Regions from separate parts of the Homo sapiens genome. Here all the other regions are linked to region 2. The links come from fine-mapping of genetic effects on gene expression. A gene starts in region 2. Each other region holds a variant in brackets. All regions are shown on one strand. Distances are between the middles of the regions.

Region 1 (5,200 bases), 68 kb before region 2:
TGTCTACCAGTGGAAGCCCATCGACCGAGGGATCAGAGGCCTCTCAGTAGTATTGTTTATTGCAGTTCCTTGGCAACATTGCAGAGAGGCAGTCAGGTTCTGAAATACAACTGAGGTTATTGGCAGGCTGAGGCCCTGGCACAGGCACCTTCTAGAATATCAGCTAGTGTCTTGGCTTTCCTCTGGGGGGATCCCGTTGCTGTTGTGTTACAGAAATGGTAGTTGTTTACTCCAACAGTCTGGATGACCGCATAGAGGAACTATTTCAATAGTGACTGACATCATTTTTTTTTTAACCTCGTAAACCTTTCACAGTTCAGGGGCCTTGGATCTTATTTTGAAGACAGGTGCAAATTGGAAATAGCATTTGAATATGACCCGGCAAAGCATGATTGCTTCTTAAGCTCAAGTATGAGATCTGTTTTGCAATCAGCTTGTCCAAGATGGTTATCTCTTCACTGTCAAATCAAAGTGCTCTGCATGGTGTTTAGAGATTGGGATGGTGAGGAGAGAGCAAGCCTGGGTATGTGCATGCATCTGTTTATTCTAGGCTTCGTGCCTCCAGGAGCTTGGAGGTCAGCTTGTAGTATAATAAAATAGAAAACTATACAGCCGGGGAGAACAGAAGCAGAATAGAAGGATAAAGTGTTGTTCATATCTCTCGGGCAAATTTTACCCAAATTCTGACGAGCAGTTACTGCACAAGCAACAACAAAGGGACCTAGAGTGTGTTCATTGCCAATTCTGTCCATTTGGCTACATAACTACTGTGAACCAATACAAAAAGATATGTATAAACATGAATAGGCGTTTGGTATTCATTCCATGAAATGCTCAGGCATTGACAGCGCTTCAGGTTTTGTTTGCTTTTTAACACAGGCTTTGAGGATAGCACAGGTCAGGAAGGCTAGGGCGTTGGAGCAGGTTTCTCAGCGGTCCAGGCTCTAAACTAAAGCTGTCCCTCTCAAAAGAATGGAAATGATTTCAGATTGTATTCAGCAGCACGAAGCAATGATTCCTAAATAGTTAAAAATCTAGAAAGAAACACTAAGAATTGTATTGGGCTTTGTAGAAGAGACCCCAGAATTTTAGGATTTGGGATGTATCCCTGCAGTCAGGCCCAGTCCCCAGTGCACCTGCAGATCTTTGACAGCTGCTGGTTGAGCTTCTGCTAAGAGGTTTCCTTCCAGGGACTCCATGTTCACTGCCTCACAAAGGCAGGCCAGCCTCATGCTTTAGACATCCTTGCTCTTAGCAAATCTTTCGTGTTCTGCTACGTCAGCCTCTGTGTGACACCCATTGGACCTTCTCTCTGTAGCACAATTGCATACCTTGCTCTGTTCTTGATAAGATAGGTCTAGGAGTCATCGAAGAGGTGTGTCTGTTCTAGCCAGAACACCTCCAAGTTTCCTGCTGTCTTCCAGGACTTCATTCCCAGGCCCTTGGGCACTGTGGCTGCTCTCCCTGCAGCTCCCTGTAGCACCATGTCCCTCTGAAATGACAAGGGTGCCCTCTAGGCATGGAGGAAACCAGACGAAGGACTGGGGAGCTGCACCCCACAGCCTAGAGCTGTGCTTCTTCCCGAGCATCTGGATCACCCAACACATAATCTTTATTTTTTATTAAGAAGCTTTCCAAATAGTCACAAATAGCCAAGGTTATTTGCTTCTTTCATGACTAATTACCATCTGTGGGGAATGTGGATTTCTCTGTAGGTTTTAATTTGCTGGTGAGTGGGCCATTGCTACCATCCCCTCCTGGTGTGGGGAAGTATAGTTACTGAATGCTGCCTCCAGCCAGCACGGGCATTGCAGGGGGACTCACAGCCGCCGGTCTTCCCCCTGGGGAAACAACGTCAAGGTTCCTAATTAGAAAGGGCTTTACACAGAGACATGTATCTACTGTTTGAAGATTAAATCTGTCCATGAAATGGAAGACTTGATTTTATATGAAGTCATGAAGAGCCAACACCACATAGTAAAATACCGGCTTTGAAAAACACAGAGGTGTTGCATATTTCTCGGTGCTTCTGACTGGCTGTGTGGCCTTGGTTAAACCTCAGAGCTTCTCTGGCCTTCGGTTGCTCCATCTGTAAGGCAAGGTCTGTCTCGAGAAGTCTGCGGTACCTGAATAGATGTTGAAATGGCTCCTGTGGCAACTGGTATTGTGTAGAGATGGTTCAGTGTCCACACCTTGCAGTTGTCACATTAAGCTGTGAAGGACGACTGACTCTAGCACTCAGTGGTCCTCAGTGGCAGGTGATGTTGACCTCAGACAAGAGTTGCTCAGGAGATAGGCTTTGCAGTTCACCTCGACAAGCGTTTGTGGAGAGCTAGGTCTGCTACCTCCTGTATCGTTGCCTGTGGGTGATGGTAAGGCTCTTGGGGGTGTGGAAGATGCGGGGATGATGATGATGACGATGATGACGATGACGACGATGACAGCGTCGTCGTCGTCCTGGTCCTGGAAGGATAAAGTCTTGTGGAGAAGAGGAGGCAATTCTGACAGTTTGGGGTTGCATCATCTTCTTCACAGAAGAGATGAAGTTGTGTAGGCACCCTAAGTATGGATTGTCACAAAAAGAGCACTAGGAAGCGGGGCGGGGCGGGGCAGGGGTGGGGGGTTCCTGGCAGTGGGAATGCTGGGCAGGCATGGCAGTAGGGAGCACCTGCTGCAGGTGGGGTTGGTGAGGTTTCCTCGTGGGACTTAGGCTGCAGAGAGATCAAGACAGGCCTCAGCTGTTGTATTAGGCATCCTGGACTAATTCTTTAAGCCCTGTTAAGGTTTCTGAACCAGAGGGTGATTAGAGCTGTGCTTGAAGTTCTTGTTAGCCGGAGTATACAGCTGCATTGAGCAAGATGTTGTAACCAAAGGAGAGGTGGTGGTGGGCCAGGCAAGCAGGATCCTGCACACTCAGGGAGCTCTGAGGGACGGAAGGAGGGTGCCAGACCTTGGACAGATGTGAGCCTGGGTGGACAGTTCGCAGTGGGACTCCGAGGAGGCCAAGGGCATGGGTGACAGCAGGCAGACTGCTCGGGTGGAATGGGCATCAGCTGCAGGGAAGCCGGGGGAAGAACAGGGCACAAATCGGAGTTCAGTGTGAGACGCAGTGAGTTTGTGGGTAGCCCAGTAACTGGGAACTTGGAATGGAGCAGTTGGGCCGGGAGGGCCAGGGTGGGAGCCGTGCCGTGAGAACTGGCTGCCTGCAAGCC[G/A]CTGACACAGCCAGGAAGGGCACGTGGGGCAAGAGGAGAAGTGGGTCTGGGAGGGAGCCACATCCTCAGGCCATTTCCCAGACCAGCCTGCAGTCAGCAAAAGCAGAGAGCTAGTCATTTCTTCTTATTTTATTTTTAATTTTTTGTTGTTGGAGAGCTAGTCATTTCTTGTACCAAGCTGCATTTCAGATGTGTGGGTACTACTGCCACTGGCATCTGAGGCATGCTGCCTGTATGGCTGGGCTGGTTGTGGAAGGCAGAGCTTCCCGCACAAAGCTGATGGAGAGCCCCTTCTCCCCTGGGCCCAGGCCTCTCTAAACTGCACTTTTGGCCTCTGGGTGTCTTGTACAACATGAAGACGACAGCATTTCTTGGTCACTTGTAATTAAAAAGGACCTTGGGTTGGTCTGTCCTCTGATTGCTAAGATTCTATTTCTGTCTAACATCTACTTTTAGTATCAATTTGTACAAAAATCTTTGATTCACCGAAAGTAGCTGAAGCAGCGAATAAAACGTTCTCATACAGTCAGGAGCACTGTGGGCTTGGGCACAAGGTCAAGGTCCCAAGAGCTCTTGGTTGGAAATCTCCTGCCCCAGGTTTTTCCATGTGGCTTGACCAGCACCTGCAGCCCAGGACAGGTCCAGCTAGAATCCCTGCTCCCCACCCTGCTCCCGCCCCTACTTGGTGATGAGTAGCCTATTTTACTCCACCAAAGTGAACCACATGGAAAGGCACACAGGTCAGGGAGAATTTGTGAATTACGGAATTTGCCCTGGGAGGGCACATTTGTTTTGCAGATTCCAGCATTGTCTTTTTTAACATTCTGTCTGAAAGTTGTGTGTGTACTCTCTGTTTTGTTTTCCAGTGGTTTGATCTTCTAAACTGGCAAAGCTGCATGCATATGGCAGAATTGCTCACTACAAAGTTATTCCTCAGCCAACTTCTCTGCTTAAGGATTCTTTGTCCATGATACCCCCTCCCAGCCAGTGCAGCCCACCCTGGTCCCCCCACCTGTGACACAGAGGCCCTGCAGGCCAGCAGCTCCCCAGCTCTGTTGTGGGTGGGGGAGCAGCAGGAGTTCTCTTCTCCCTTGGCCCAACTGGACCTCAAGATCCCTATAGATCTTCTAAACATTCCAGGTCCCAGGCCCTCACCCCAGACCAATCAAATCAGAGTTTCTATTGGGTGCCCAGCCCTCTGTTTAAAAACCTCCCCAGGAGATTCTCCTGTGCAGCCGGCAGTGAGAACCACCTGGGTAGAGGTTTCCAAAATTGTCTGATTGTAAAAATCACCTGAGGAGCTTGGTAAAGCTTGACTGTCCCAGGCCTCATTTGAGGCTACTAAGTCAATGTCCAGGCTGGGGCTTGGACAAGAATGTCATTCTTTTTGGGTCAAAGCCAGGTTAGGTGATACCGCCTTGCCAGATAAATGGCCGGGACTAGGTAGATGCTGAACCCAGTATGCTCTGCGTTCAAAGCACAGATCAGGGGCTTCCTGACCGTGCAAGGGATGCCGGAAGCGCCCTCACCACCTTCCTTAGCTCCACCACCGGGGCTGAATTTAGTTTACGGGGAACATTAGCAGCAACAGAGGGAGGATGATATCCCGCACTTAGCCCAGGGCCTGGCTCGCTGTCTGACAAGCACTGTCACCATAGTAAGGACAGTTTATCTGCTCGGGATGTAAGAAGTGCTGGAAAGGAGGGGGCAGCATTGTTCAGTCCATCCCTTTCCAAGCTCCTCACAGTTTTTTTCTCCCTGTAGGTCCTTCGGGGTCGTCCTCTGGGAGATCGCCACACTGGCCGAGCAGCCCTACCAGGGCTTGTCCAACGAGCAAGTCCTTCGCTTCGTCATGGAGGGCGGCCTTCTGGACAAGCCAGACAACTGTCCTGACATGCTGTACGTACTTCCTGGGCCCTCCGTGCTCTTCTGAGTTCTCTTCTCAAATACCTGTTTTCTTGGGTCACAGGAGATTAGGAGATTAAAGC
Region 2 (5,200 bases):
GCCACCTCTCAGGGCCTAAGAGTTTTCTTATATATCAGCAATAACTAATTCTAATGTAATTGGAGAAAAGAGCCCATCCACAATGCCCTTCAAATATCAGAAATCTCTAGGAATAAACCTGGCAAGAAATGTATGAGATCCTTTTGTGGAAAACTGTGGAACTGGCGGGGTGCGGTGGCTCACGCTAGTAATCCCAGCACTTTGGGAGGCCGAGGCAGGTGGATCACCTGAGGTCAGGAGTTCCAGACAAGCCTGGCCAACATGGTGAAACCCTGTTCTCTACTAAAAATACAAAAATTAGCTGGGCGCGGTGGCTCACGCTAGTAACCCCAGCACTTTGGGAGGCCAACGCAGGTGGATCACCTGAGGTCAGGAGTTCCAGACAAGCCTGGCCAACATGGTGAAACCCCATCTCTACTAAAAATACAAAAATTAGCCAGGTGTAGTGGTTCATGCCTGTAATCCTAGCTACTTAGGAGGCTGAGGCAGGAGAATCACTTGAACCCAGGAGGAGGAGGTTGCAGTGAGCCGAGATCGCACCATTGCACTCCAGCCTGGGCAACAAGAGTGAAACTCTGTCTCAAAAAAAAAAAAAAGAAAAAGAAAAGAAAAAAGAAAAGAAAACTGTGGGACTTTAAGAAAAAAACATAGAAGACCCGAATAAAACAAAGGATGCCATGTTCTGTAATGGGAAGATTCGAAACTTTAAAAATGTTAATGCAAACCGATGTTAAAGACTAGATGCAACTGGCTTGCCTTCCCAGATATCCAAATATATGCTAAAAGCTAGGGTAATTAAAATAGTGCAGTGTTGTTGTAGAAATAGGAAAACTGTCAATAAAACAGCTAGAATGTGTATGAGAATTTAATATATAGTTAAAGAGATAATTCAAATTAGTAGCGGAAAGAATATACCATTTAATGGTGTGGGAACCATGAGATATAGCTAGATCCATTCCTTATGCCATATAGGTCAGTAAATTATGATTGGATTAAAATTCAAATCTGAAAATCAAGACAGTAAAAATACTGGAAGTAAATTTAGAAGAATTATTTTCTAGTTTTGGAGTAGTTTCAAAATACTCATGCGAGACGCAAAACTCAGAAACTAAAAGGAAAAGAGGAGGTATTTGACTAATACTGACTTTGGATATAGGAGTTGAATGAGAAGCAGGGAACTTTTCAGTTCATTATTCTTTATATATACTGTATACACACACACACACATACATATTTTAAAAGAACTGTTCAAGCTCTATACATGTAATTTTTTTTTTTTTTTGAGACAGAGTCTCGCTCTGTTGACCAGGCTGGGGTGCAGTGGCGCGATCTTGGCTCACTGCAAGCTCCGCCTTCCGGGTTCACACCCTTCTCCTGCCTCAGCCTCCGGAGTAGCGGGGACTACAGGCGCCCGCCACCACGCCCGGCTAATTTTTTTTGTATTTTTAGTAGAGACGGGGTTTCACCGTGTTAGCCAGGATGGTCTCGATCTCCTGACCTCGTGATCCGCCCGCCTCGGCCTCCCAAAGTGCTGGGATTACAGGCATGAGCCACCGCGCCCGGCCCTATACATGTTATTTTTTAAAAACAAGAGAACTTTAAAAAATGTAACAAAAACGTACATCAAAAAATGTATACTTCAGACCTTGAAGAAATATATTCTACATTTTTACAGCAGACATTAATGAACCTTTAGTCCTGTGTGCCTGTGGCTGACTGCCACAATTACTACTTGAGACCGTCACTATGACAGTTATTACCGTTACTACTTGAGACCGTCACTACGACAGTTATTGTTACTACTTGAGACCGTCATTACAGGACTGAACGAAAGGACAAACGTAGAAATGATTAAAGAAATCTGTTTTAAAGGAAGGGGAAACCGGGAAGAAGGGAGCTCCCTGCTTCTAGTGAGCGAAGGCAGCCCCCCGAGCTTCCACAGCCCTTCGCATTCATTGGGAGAATGAGCAGGGAGGAGGCCCTAAGACTGGTCAGCTGTTTGATTATCACAAGTTCTCATTACTAACAGGCTTCAGTTGTGTCTAATCCTAAACACTTGCACCTGGGTGGTGACTGCCCTCAGCAGTCCTTCTGGGCGGCAGACACAGGTTGTCAGTTTGCCAACACCCTGCTCTCATGAGAAACAGTTTGCTGCTTACTCACGTGGCCTCCAGTGGTATACTGAGTTGATCACGACCCTCAATCTTTCGGCCCCTAAGAGCCGCAGGGGGGTGGGGAGGTGCCAGGCTGCTGAGGCCTTTGGGTTCCTAGGCTGCTGGCATTTTAAAACCACCACTGTATTCCACCTCCCCTTGGATAACACGCAGAAACAGGCCAAGAAGAAATTACCTGCTGTTGGTTATTTCTATTTCAAATGAATACTAGCTGAACATTTACTAAATGACATTGTCAGGTTTCAGCAAAAGCGGCCTGTAATAGTTGGGTGAGGACAGGGAAAGACTTTGAAATGGGCAGAAAAGATTACGGGATGTCCTGCAGGTTCAGTGTGCTTTGGCCTATTTTTCAACTGTCTAAATTTTCGCCGCCAAAGTCGCCAAAACCGCCTCCGCCGCAGCCTCCTCAAAAGCCGCCCCCGCCGCCGCTGCAGCCAAAGCCTCCTCCTCCTCCTCTTCCTTCTCTCTCCTCCCTCACCTCCTCCTTCCTTCTAGGAAGCTTACTGGAGTGAAACTTGAACGTTTTCAAAAAAGGTTAACGCAAATGATTCTTGTCCAAAGAAACAGAAATAATAGAAGTGTGAAGGGGCGTGGGAGGGGGTTGACATGTGCCGCGTTCAGGCCCGGGGCACCGGCGAGGGTGGGCGTGTGAGCGGGGGGTGGGGGCGTTAACGGTGTCTTCTCCCCACAAATGAAAGAGAAATAGTAAATTCTCCTGGGGTGGCGAATCAGGTGGGAAGGTGGAGCCCACAATCTTTGCAAACTCTCTGGGGAGCCAGGGGTTGGTAGCTGGGAAGACTGTTGGGTGGTGACCCTGGGGGAGGGGAAGGGGCCGGGGAGCGGGGAACGGGGGCAGCCCCTGGGGAGGAATGGGAGAGGGAGGAGGACGCCAGGGGCACAGGGACAGCCTCCGGGGCGGGGCGCGGCGCCAGCCTAGCCCGAGGATGGAGGCTGAGGCCGCCTGTTGAGTCACAGGTAAGGGGAGCCGCTCTGGCCAGGCCCAGGGCCGCCCTCGTTCCTCCCGGAGCGCAGCGACAGCTCCTCCCCGCGTCTCGGGTTTCAATGGCTCGACCTGCCGGAAAGCCCCGGGCCCGCGCGCTGCAACAGGATCCCGTAAACAGCGCGCGGCGGCCAGGGAAACTTTCCCCGGAGCCGGCGCCGGGGTGCGGCGAGCCGCGCACCTGTTGTTGCCTCGGGACTGAACTGCAGCGGCGGACCGGCGAGCGGGGGGCCTGGACGTCGAGTGCGGGGCCGGCGGGGCCCCCGCACTCACCCTCGGGAGCGTTTAAGTCCCTCCCGGGAAGAAGGGGGAGGAAATGCTCGGGGGAGCCGGAAGAGGCACTGCCAGCATCAACTCCACGCGCGCCCCGGCCTCGGCGCCCGGCCTCGGTCACGGCTTCTCTCGGAGGTCCCCCGGGGACACCGGGCGCCGGGACTGACCCGGGCTTGCTTCCCAGGCGCGGGAGCGTGGGGAAGTCCCTGCCTTCCCAGGGTCTCCGCTGTCTTGTCTGTGAAATGGGAACCGCACAGTGGGGGAGAATTCTTTACGGCCGCTCGGGTTACTGCCAGCGCCCCTTCCGCCCCCGCCACCTTCCCTGCGCCGGGACGCCTCGGCTGTGGTCGGGGGCGCAGAGGTGGAGCGGGTCGGGGTCGCCGGAGCCCGGGCTTCGTGCCATTTCTGGCCCTGGAGCGCGCGCGTCCCCGAGCCTGTCGCTTCCCGGGCCCCAGGGGGTGCCATGCTTGGCCCTATCTCCAGAAAACCAGGCAGAGCGGGTGCACCTTCTGAATCTGAAAGCACGTGAAACAAAACACCCCAAAGCCCACCAGCCCCTGAGGTGCTCGGATAGGAGCAAGAGTAGCGCCCTTGGATGCTGAGAAAGTGCCTCTTTACCTCCTGCCCCTTCCCTTCTCCTTGTGGGGACATGTGGCGGGGCCGGGTGTGAGAATGAGACCCGTTTCCCGAGGGAAGGAGGGCGCGGTGACCGGCTGTTCCGGCCCCTACACGTCCAGTCCGACCCGTTAGGCGCCCTGGCCGCAGGTGGCCCGCCCTCCCCAGCAGCAGCTCAGCCGCAGACTGGCCACTTTCTCCCGCCACACGTCTCGGTAGGGAACAAAAAATCTCATAAAGGCTCCTCTACCTTTTCTTGGAAGGCAACTTTAGAGGCGATTTACGCTCTTTTATGACTTGCTCTAAAAGCTGTGACTTAGAGTTGCTTTTCTGCTGATTTTAGGCGAGTTAAGGAGGGAAGGTAGCGATTAGCCAATTGTATGGATTAGTTACATTTTTCGTGGACGTTTTAGTTGGCCTAGAGATTGAGAAAGGGTTTTTTGTTTATTTGTGTGTTTGTTTTGAGACAGAGTCTCTGTCACCCAGGCTGGAGTGCAAAGGCGCAATCTCATCTCACTGAAACCTCCGCCCCGCCCCCACCCCCTCCCGGGTTGAAGCAATTCTCCTGCCTGAGCCCCTCGAGTAGCTGCTTCTACAGGCGCCCGTCACCATGCCCGGCTAATTTTTGTATTTTTAGTCGAAACGGGGTTTCACCTTGTTGGCCAGGCTGGTTTCGAACTCCTGACCTCAAGTGATCCGCCCGCCTAGGCCTCGCAAAGTGCTGGGATTATGGGCCTGAGCCACCATGCTCGGCCGAGAAAGGTTTTTTGTCTTTCGTTTTGGAAGGGGAGATACTATTTCTTTTTTGATTGTTTTCTCTATGCTTCTTTCTAGAAAGTTGGGTTTCACGGTTGTGGATGGCAAGTACTGTTTCCAGTTTACATGTTGGAGAACTAGGACGAGGAAAAAAAGTGATTTGCTCTTTGAATCTCATCTTCCTCATCTACAAAATAGAGGAGATTCTGCCCACTTAGGGGCTTATTGTAGAGCAGTATTACACCGAGGTGCTCCCAGAAGCTCCTCCCTGCCCCTAGGCCTGTGAGTGATTTCATGAGTCAGAGGGTTCCTTCCAAGGATTGCTTTAGAGATCTGTCTTACTCTACCCAGTCTCCTTGCATTTTAATGGGAAAAGTAATGG
Region 3 (5,000 bases), 33 kb before region 2:
CTGCCCTAAGTAACCTGCCTGATTTCCAGGGCCCCACTTATTTGTGTCTTTTTCTCTAGCATTAGACTGTGTATATATATATATATATATATTTTTTTTTTTTTTTTTTTTTTGAGGCACAGTCTTGCTCTGTCACCAGGCTGGAGTGCGGTGGCATGATCTCGGCTCACCGCAACCTCCGCCTCCCGGGTTCAAGCAATTCTCCTGCCTCAGCCTCCCGAGTAGCTGGGACTACAGGCACGCGCCATCACGCCCAGTTAATTTTTGTGTTTTTAGTAGAGATGGGGTTTTACCATGTTGGCCAGGATGGTCTCGATCTCTTGACCTCGTGATCCGCCCACCTTGGCCTCCCAAACTGCCGGGATTACAGGTGTGAGCCGCCGCGCCTGGCTACAGGATATATATATATATATATTTTTATTACATTTATGGCAGCACAAATATAGCCCCAATGCCCTCAAGATTCTGGTCTGGATTCTGTGAAACAAGATAAACAGGTCAGACTGTTTCCCATGCTGACAGAGTGCGTAACCCAGGAAGGATGTGATGGATTTCATCAAATCTAAGTCCCAGAGATGGAACATCGAGCATTACTGTACGAACCAGCAAGACAGTAAAAGTACTGCTCAACTATGACAAAGCATAAGATGCAGCTGCCTGTGAGATTCATCTGATTTCAGGATGCCAAAATTAAAACAAAAAAAAAACCAAAAAACACCTGGCTCTTTGCATCAATAAAATATGGTAGGCGATGAGTACAAGAACAGGAGGACATGCACATAGCAACACAGCACAGACTTCTATATATAAGTAGTGTGGTTATTTAATAAGTGCCCAACAATTTGCAATTGCAGAAATGTGAAACCAGCCCAAATTCCCATCAATCAATGAGTGGATAAAGAAACTGCGGTATATAGATAGGATGGAATACTACTCAGCCATAAAAAGAAATGTATTAATGGCATTTATAGCAACCTGGATGGGATTGGAGACTATTCTTTTTTTTTTTTTTTTTTTTTTTTTTTTTTTTTTGGAGACAGAGTCTCACTCTGTCACCCAGGCTGGCGTGCCATGGCACAATCTTGGCTCACCGCAACTCTGCCTCCCGGGTTCAAGCGATTCTTCTGCCTCAGCCACCACAGTAGCTGGGACTACAGGCGAGTGCCACCACACCCGGCTAATTTTTGTATTTTTAGTAGAGATGGGGTTTTACCATATTGACCAGGCTGGTCTCGAACTCCTGACCTTGTGATCTGCCTGCCTCGGAGACTATTATTCTAAGTGAAGTAACTCAGGAATGGAAAACCAAACACCATATGTCCTCACTCATAAGTGGGAGCTAAGCTATGAGGATGCAAAGGCATAAGAATGATACAATGGACACTGGGGACTCGATGGGAAAGGGTGGGAAGCAGGTGAGGGATGAAAGACTACAAATTGGGTTCATGTATACTGCTTGGGTGATGCTGCACCAAAATCTCACAAATCACCACTAAAGAACTTACTCATGTGACCAAATACCACCTGTTCCCCAAAAACTTATGAAAATAAAGAATAAATAAATGAAAAGTGTCCAACTTAGTCTAACTTTTAATACAGCTAAACACACAGCCATAAAAACAAAGTGTGGACTCGTGCCATTTCCCTTGGAGCAGAGAAACCTGAACGATCAGGGAGGCATTGTCCTAGGATAGTAAAGGGAGGAGGGGGGAGGAAAAGGTTTCAGGAGGAGACAGACTTTCAAAAGGAAACAAGCCATAGGCCAAAATATGAGAAATAAATATTCATGAGTCCATCCTGATCTAATGAAATGACTACATACATAAGTAAACAAATAAGTAAGTGGGTCCAGGAGGAGGACTCAGCTCTCTCATGCACTTGCACTCCCAGTAACCGATGTAACTCCTCTACCCTGAAGCAGAGAGGAACTCCCCCACTCGAGTGTGGGCTGCGCAGAGTTACTTCCTTCCAAAGAGGACAGGATAGAAGTGGGGACAAAAAGTAACTGTATGGTGGCCAGGTGCAGTGGCTCACGCCTGTAATCCCAGCACTTTGGGAGGCCGAGGTGGACGGATCACCTGAGGTCAGGAGTTTGAGACCAGCCTGGCCAAAAGAGTGAAACCCCGTCGCTACTAAAAATACAAAAATTAGCCAGGCGTGGTGGCATGTGCCTGTAGTCCCAGCTGTTCAGGAGGCTGAGCCAGGAGAATTGCTCGAACCTGGGGGGCAGAGCTTGCACTGAGCCAAGATCACCCCCACTGCACACTAGCCTCAGTGACACAGAGAGACTCCATCTGGAAAAGGAAAAAAAAAAAAATTAACTGTATGGTAGAGAGGCCTGACAAACACTCCCTCCACCAAGTAAGATCAAGGTCATCATGGACAGTGCTGTCACACTGATACTGTGTGCCCTTGATCTGACAGGATGAAAGTGACACTTTACCTCTGTCTTCCTCCCCCTAACCTCAGTCTGATCATGAGAAAAGCAGCAGAAAAGTCCCAATTGAGGAACAAACTATCAATTCCTGGCCAGACTCTTCAAAACCATCAACGTCATCAAAAACTAGGAAAGTCTGGCCGGGCGCGGTGGCTCCCGCCTGTAATCCCAGCACTTTGGGAGGCCGAGGCGGGCGGATCACGAGGTCAGGAGATCCAGACCATCCTGGCTAACACAGTGAAACCCCGTCTCCACTAAAAATACAAAGTTAGCCGGGCGTGCTGGCGGGCGCCTGTAGTCCCAGCTACTCGAGAGGCTGAGGCAGGAGAATGGCGTGAACCCGGGAGGCAGAGCTTGCAGTGAGCCGAGATCGCACCACTGCACTCCAGCCTGGGCAACAGAGCAAGACTCCGTCTCAAAAAAAAAAAAAAAAACAAAAACAAAACAAAAA[CAACA/C]AACAAAACTAGGTAAGTCTGAGAAATGGCCACAGCCAAGACAAGCCTACGGAGACTCGAGGACTTATGAATGTGGTGTTCTGGCTGAGATTCTGGGACAGAAGAGAGGCATTAGGGGAAACTGAGGGAACCCAAATAGACTATGGACTTTATGTAAAGGTAATATATTCCTACTGGTTCCGTCATTGTGACAAATACACCATACTAACGTACAAGGTTAATAATGGGAAGAATTGAGGAATATATATTCTGTGCTATCTTCACAACTTTTCTGTACATATAAACGTATTTTTAAATAAAAAGTTTGTCTAAAAAAATAAACAGGGAACAAGCTGGAGAGGCTGCTCTGTTTAGCACCCTGGAAAAGGGTAAGGACTCTAGACTTGCTGGGGGCCATGTAGGAAGTAGGGGGACCCACAGTAACATCCGGGAAAAATGTGGGGGTCATTCTGAAAGATCATCTTGGTCTGGTTTTTCTGGCTTGTCTTCCTGTCAACGTGGGAATGGATTTGGGGTTTAGCTAGAACTAAACATATGACTCACTTGTCTGTGAATAGCAAACTTTTCTCCAAATAAGCAGAAAAAATATGTTTCCTTGAGCGTTTACTAGGAGCACGGTGTTTGTGGGGAGGACTGTGAAGCCACAGCAGACACCCTCCATGCATGTGGACCGTGGGGTCTCCTCCACCAAGGTGTGGATTCCATCTGCACTCGCCTCGATCCTTGGGAGCTCCCTGGAGTGCGGCCCCTTGTGCAGGCGACTGGGACTATGAGAGCACAGGCTCTTTGCCATGGACTCACACAGTCCCCATATTCTTGTGGATTCTTGTGGATTCTTGTGTCATTTCGAAGTGAGAATGCAAGGACAGTCCTATTTCATGCTGTTCCAAGGCCAGAGTGAACTGTGTATCACCACTTGGTTACTTCTCTTCCCACTAACAAGGTGGGGCTCACACTACAGTCACCAGACTGAAAAAAGGAGGTGTAAGACGTCATGGGAAAGTGCATTTGGGTTATCCAACCGTGGAGGCCAATGTTCAGATAACCCACTGAAGCGGGTGCCCAGGACATGGTTGACGCTGAGCTGGGGGCTATCATAGGTGAGGTCTGTGTAAACTAGAGAGATGTCTGAGGTCTCCCTTCCTCCTCACTCTGGTTATTTTTATCTGAGGCTTTTTTTTTTTTTTTTTTTTTTTTTTTTGAGACAGAGTCTTGCTCTGTTGCCCAGGCTGGAGTGCGGGGGCATGATCTTGGCTCACTGCAACCTCCGCCTCCCGGGTTTGAGTAATTCTCATCCCTTAGCCTCCTGAGTAGCTGGGATTATAGGCACCAGCCACCACGCCCAGCTGATTTTTGTGTTTTTAGTAGACACAGGGTCTCACCCTGTTGGCCAGGCTGGTCTCAAACTCCTGGCCTCAAGTGATCCACCTGCCTCAGCCTCCCAAAGTGCTGGGATTATAGGCGTGAGCCACCGCACCCAGCCTGAGGCTTTCTCATTTTAGTCAAGAAAACAAAACAAACCCACTCTGGACTAATTGGAAAAATGTCTGTCATATATGTGTTTGTATTCACCTAGGTTGGAAAAAGGTTTTGTCCTGGGATTTGGTGGGAAGAATAAAGGTTCTCTTGGGAAAAAAAAAAAAAGAAGAATCAAGAGAAACAATTTTCTTTCACTTGGAAAGGTTTGCAGTTACTTTCCTATCCCTGAACAGGACTCAGCTTTCATCCTAAAGCACCGTTCAGCTTAGAAATTCTTTGACTGTTCTGATTCACGGCTCTTTATTCATTATTATTATTATTATTTAAAGCAACATGTAAGAAAGGCACCAGGCCACCTCATCTTTGGGGCAAAGAGAAATTATTCTGCATGTCAAGTTTATCAAATATGAGAAGAGCCCTGACCTCTTGGCTGCCTAGGCTGTATTTTAAGTGCAGTTACGTAATGTCTTGGCCCAACTGACCCTGGGTGTGTTTTCAAAAACCCTTGTTTTATTTGCTGACTCACCAGGCTGAGGCACTTAAGAGCTAAGCATGTAATTTCTTTTGAATGAATATGAGGTGGTAGTGGCTCCAAAATTAGAGTATCCAGAAACCAGGGAATAATGATG
Region 4 (5,200 bases), 25 kb after region 2:
GTGAACCTCATTTGAAAGAAACTCAGACTGTAGTGATTTGAGATACTCAACAGAAACAAACACAAATCCTCTTGTGAGAGTACTTCCTTCTAGATCTCAAATTATTCCTACAAATAGTTTTTAGTGACAAAAAGCAGCATACACTAAAAATAATCAAGCACATAGGAAAATAGACATTGTGAATGAGAAAATAAGAAACAATACAAAATAGAAACATTTAAAGACTTCATATTTCAGAACTTCATATTTCAGATCTGTCAAACACAGATCATAAACAAATATGCTTCCTACATTTAAAGATTAAAGACAGCTTTAAAAATGTATATAGGGAATAGGAAACTATAGAGTATGATAGAAGATTTGAAAAAGAACTAAATAAAATTTCTACAAATGAAAAGTTCAAGAATTGAAATGAAGAACTCAATAGATGCATGTAAAAACATTCTAGACATAGCCAAAGAAAGAATTTAATAAGATGGAAGATATGCTGGAAGACATTTTCCAGGATGCAGAACAAAAAGATGAACATACAGAACAGAAGTTACAAGACATGGAAGATAAACAGAGAAGATCTAACATACGTTTAAGCAGAGTCCCTGAAGAGAGAAGGGAGAGAATGATACAGAGGCATTATTTTAAAAGATTATGGCTGATAATTCAATAATGAATCATTCCATAATGAATTTAACAATGAATTCAAAGCAAGATAAGTAAATGAAAATCTAGATACATTGTAGTGAAACATCAGCACACCTAAAATAAATAGAAAGTCATAAAGGAGTCAGAGTAAAAAGATGTACTTCCTTTAGTGGAGTGACAGACTGACAACTAACTTATCAGCTGTAAGAATGGAAGTCATAAGATAGTGGAATGATATCTTCAGTAGAATGAAAAAAATGGCTGCCAACCAAGGATTCTATACTTAAAGACAACATTTTTCAAGTATAAGAGCAAAACAAACAAACAAAAATCTGCTTTCAGAAACAAAAACTGTGACTTCACCACTGGTGGACTTTTATTAAAAAAAAAATTCTAAAGGCAGAAAGAAATTTGTCCCAGAAAGAAGATAAAGAAGGAATGAAGAAGCAAGAAAGAATATATAGCCAATTCTAAATAAACATTGACTGTATAAAATAATCATAGTTTCTTGTGAGGTTAAAAGAAGAGAGAGAGATGAGGGGAATTGTAGTGGTGACAGCTCTTTTCTTGCACTGAATCTCCACATATTAGCAAACAACAATTACAAAAAACTGTGACAAGATATCTTCAAAAACCCTAAAATACAAGTGGATATGTGGACAAACCACCAATAACCTCAAGATCTTTATGATTTTGGAATCTGTGTGGAAAGGGGAAAAAAGAAGCAACAGAGTGGCATTTGATATACCTGAGAATAGCAGAACCCCAGTAGGAATTTGCTGGAAAACATTGAGAACAGCAGTTGAATCTAGGAGGGGCAAATACTGGGCAATGATATATATGGATCATGAACCCTAAAAGCTAGCTGTCTAGGGCTTCCTTCTGAGACACAGTCCCAATGAGGAGAAAGTGCTGGAAGTAGAGTTAAAACTGAGCAGGATGAAGACAATATAGATGAAGGAAAGAGAAGGTCCAGTTCAAAATAGGAGAAGGAACCAGAGACGGGAAATCTCAGAAAGTAAGCCATTATATTTTTAATGTACATTGCACAAAAACAACAGAAGAAGACACTTTATGTTAGAAAATTTTCCTGAACCCCACTTCATTCTAAAGTCAAGAATATGAATTTCACCTAAAACTAAGGTCAAATTCTGTACAAAGTTAGAATTTTTTAAAAAGAGAATAAGGATCAAAAATAACAAAACACACAAAAGTCATGCCCACAAAATAGACCAAAAAATGTAATTTACTATTTCAAAACAATTAAAAACATTAAGAAAATTATAAAAGACATGGAAATACATCAGCGTTATAAACACTTAGAAATGAAGTGAGAGAAATAATTAAGAAGCAAAAGACAAATTCACTTCAGAAATGAAAACTAAACTAGATGGAACATGGGAAAGAATAAACAACAAATAATGCCTTAAGAGGAATATAAGATTTTTAAAAAGTTTTCAAACAAAAAAGAAATGAAGAAAGGGATAAAGAGGATTTAGGAGAAAGTAACAGTTGCAAATGATAGCCAAGGATTATATG[C/G]CTTCTTCAAGAAAACCTGAGAAAGCAAACCAAGAGAAGGACCAAAAGAAATATTAATACTATAATTAACCCAAGAAAACGTGCCTAAAATTGTAATTAAAGGATTTGAAATTACATGTTCAGGAGGACACTATGTACTTATGAATATTGACAAAAAGTTATTAACACCTGGAGATATTCTAGTATAACTACTGTACTTTAGAGATGTTACTTGGTTGGGAGGCTGAGGCAGGAGAATCACTTGAAGCCAGGAGTTCGAGACCAGCCTGGGCAATATAGCAAGACCCAATCTCTAAAATAAATAAATAATAAAAATAAAAGTTATTTGGGCATAAAAAGAGAGAGAGAATGGAACTTGAATAGAAAAGAATAATAGATCATCATTAGACTTTTTGAAAGCAGTACTTTATGCCAGAAAAAAAAAATAGTCACATATTTAAGAAAAGGTGCATCCAGGATTTTATATTGCAGAAAAATTGGATTTCAAATATTAAAAACAAACTATTATCAACAAGAAAGATCTAAGGGAATATTGTTTCCATGAGTCTAAGAAGTTTAGCAGAGAACAAAACTTCAGACAACCAAAATGACCCTTACCGATGTGAAGGCAGATGGCAAGGATTAAATTTAACTTGTAGAATTAAGACTGAATAGTGGCTAAAAAGGATTGTGTATAGACTGTCCTGACTATATATTCTGATAATACATAGCACAGCTTTTGAAAAATGGAGAGAGGGCTGGCGCGGTGGCTCACGCCTGTAATCCCAGCACTTTGAGAGGCCAAGGGGGGGGCAGATCACAAGGTCAGGAGATCGAGACCATCCCGGCCAACATGGTGAAACTCCCGTCTCTACTAAAAATACAAAAATTAGCCGGGTGTGGTGGCACATGCCTGTAATCCCAGCTATTTGGGAGGCTGAGGCAGGAGAATCGCTTGAACCAGGGAGTCGTAGGCTGCGGTGAGCCAAGATCACGCCACTGCATTCCAGCCTGGCAACAGAGCGAGACTCTGTCTCAAAAAGAGAAAAAAAAAGAAAAAAAGAAAAATGGAGAGAGAATGGGAGAACATATGAAAAAGATTTATTTTAATGTTTTAAATAATCATATTGATAGTAAATTAGTATTTTAGTATTTTTATTCCATGTCTGTTGTGTGTGTACTATGGGATTCAGGAAATTATTAATTATGAGAAATTCTAATTATATAATTCCCTGTATTCTTGAGAACCAGGATTTGTGATAGAGAAGAAAGGAGTTACAGGTGTAATACAGAAGAAGTTAAATAAAATTGGGGTAGTTTTGAATTAGAAGTATCAGTATTGACTCATGAGCTATTTTGTTTTTAAATATATAATTCTGGCCAGGCAAAATGGCTCATGCCTGTAATCCCAGCACTTTAGGAGGCTGAGGAGGACAGAACACTTGATGTCAAGAGTTCAAGACCAGCCTGACCAACATGGTGAAACCCCATCTTCACTAAAAATACAAAAAATTAGCTGGGCGTTGTGGCACGTGTCTGTAGTCTCAGCTCCTTAGGAGGCTGAAGCAGGAGATTCCCCTGAACCCAGGAGGTGGAGGTTGCAGTAAGCAGAGATCATGCCACTGCACTCCAGCCTGGGTGACAGAGCAAGACTCAGTCTCAAAAAAATTGTGCATATGTGTACAACATATTTGAATATGTGTTCTAATACATCAGAATTAGAAACACTCAGAAGTGTGTGTGTATGTGAGTGTGTGTGTGTGTGTGTGTGTGTGAGAGAGAGAGAGTATTTAGCGCCACAGAAAAGAAACAATGACCTGTCTAGAGAAATGAGCTTTCCTAGTGCTGGTATTATGTATTCAAGTTCCACATCACACGACAAAGGACCAGGACTTCTTGCAGAAATGACTGAATGCAGGTCTGGTCCTGGAACATCTTGTCATATCAGAAAGCAGCAATGTTAAAGACTTCTAGCATCATGTCCAAAGGACTCAAGAACTAACCTAAAGAGGTTCGCACTAGCCAAAGTCAGAATAATTTGAAGCTACAGTAAAGATAATGTTTAAATTCGTGAGTACATAATAATATTGAAACAATAAAAAAGAACTAGTCACCCTCAGAGGATGACAGGAAACCAATTCATTATCTTGGAAACTGATGAATAAAGGAAGAATCTAGCATCTATCCCCGTTTCTATATGAACTGTACTGCTGGGTAACCAGATAGCAGTTGGAGAAGGATCTCCTTAGAACAGTATTACAACCATTAAATAACAAAACAATAAAAAAGATAGAATGTCACCATTTTGCATCCCCAGTGAATTATTAGATGTAGGCACTAAGCATCAACAACTGCTAACATCAATAAAAGAGACAACAGGGCTTTATATGCCTCCTATTGTCTTGCCAAACCAAGGGATCAAATCTGAATCTGATACAGTTTCTGGATCCAGCTGCCCAAATTTCTGGAAATACAGAAGGCAGAGAAATGCAGTGTACTGTGAGGATGTGAGCAGCAAACTCTAAGCTGAAGGAAGCTAAACCACTCAGGGAGAGCCCAGGTTCCCCAAGAGATTATCTCTACGGAAAAGAAAAGGATGAGAGGGAATTTACAGATTAAAAGAGACTTGAAGTCTTAAATTCTTTAACTCGGCAAAGCAATGCTGTAGTTTTATGGATACACCATTTGGTTGATAAAATTATTATTATTATTATTATTATTATTTTGAGATGGAGTCTTGCTCTGTTGCCCAGGCTGGAGTGCTGTGGTGCAATCTCAGCTCACTGCAACCTCCGCCTCCTGGGTTCAAGTGATTCTCCTGCCCCAGCCTCCCGAGTAGCTGGGATTACAGGTGCATGCCACCACACCTGGCTAATTTTTGTATTTTTAGTAGAGACAGGGTTTTACCATGTTGGCCAGGCTGGTCTCAAACTCCTGACTTCAGGTGATCTGCCCTCCTCAGCCTCCCAAAGTGCTGGGATTACAGGTGTGAGCCACCACACCTGGCCAAATAAAATTATTTTTAAAGGAACTAATAAGTATA

The links.
Region 1: its variant is fine-mapped to the expression of LUNAR1 in whole blood (TOPMed, PIP above 0.99).
Region 3: its variant is fine-mapped to the expression of LUNAR1 in whole blood (INTERVAL, PIP above 0.99).
Region 4: its variant is fine-mapped to the expression of LUNAR1 in whole blood (INTERVAL, PIP above 0.99).

The regions. Positions count from the first base shown.
Region 1 is chr15:98,943,598-98,948,797 of GRCh38, forward strand. It overlaps IGF1R (insulin like growth factor 1 receptor), which reads left to right. Exons shown (of 21, transcript NM_000875.5): 20 at 4,977-5,111. Among named protein-coding and RNA genes, the nearest start is that of PGPEP1L, 62 kb to the right of the region's middle. The variant G/A (reference allele first, on the strand shown) is at 3,213.
Region 2 is chr15:99,011,665-99,016,864 of GRCh38, forward strand. It overlaps LUNAR1 (leukemia-associated non-coding IGF1R activator RNA 1), which reads left to right and starts at 3,040. Exons shown (of 4, transcript NR_126487.1): 1 at 3,040-3,149. RefSeq lists enhancers at 3,149-3,248, 3,614-4,389, 4,099-4,228 and silencers at 3,409-3,488, 3,709-3,778, 3,849-3,908.
Region 3 is chr15:98,978,636-98,983,635 of GRCh38, forward strand. All of the region lies in intron 2 of PGPEP1L (pyroglutamyl-peptidase I like), which reads right to left. Among named protein-coding and RNA genes, the nearest start is that of PGPEP1L, 27 kb to the right of the region's middle. RefSeq lists an enhancer at 3,442-3,491. The variant CAACA/C (reference allele first, on the strand shown) is at 2,889.
Region 4 is chr15:99,037,158-99,042,357 of GRCh38, forward strand. No RefSeq gene overlaps it. Among named protein-coding and RNA genes, the nearest start is that of LUNAR1, 25 kb to the left of the region's middle. The variant C/G (reference allele first, on the strand shown) is at 2,179.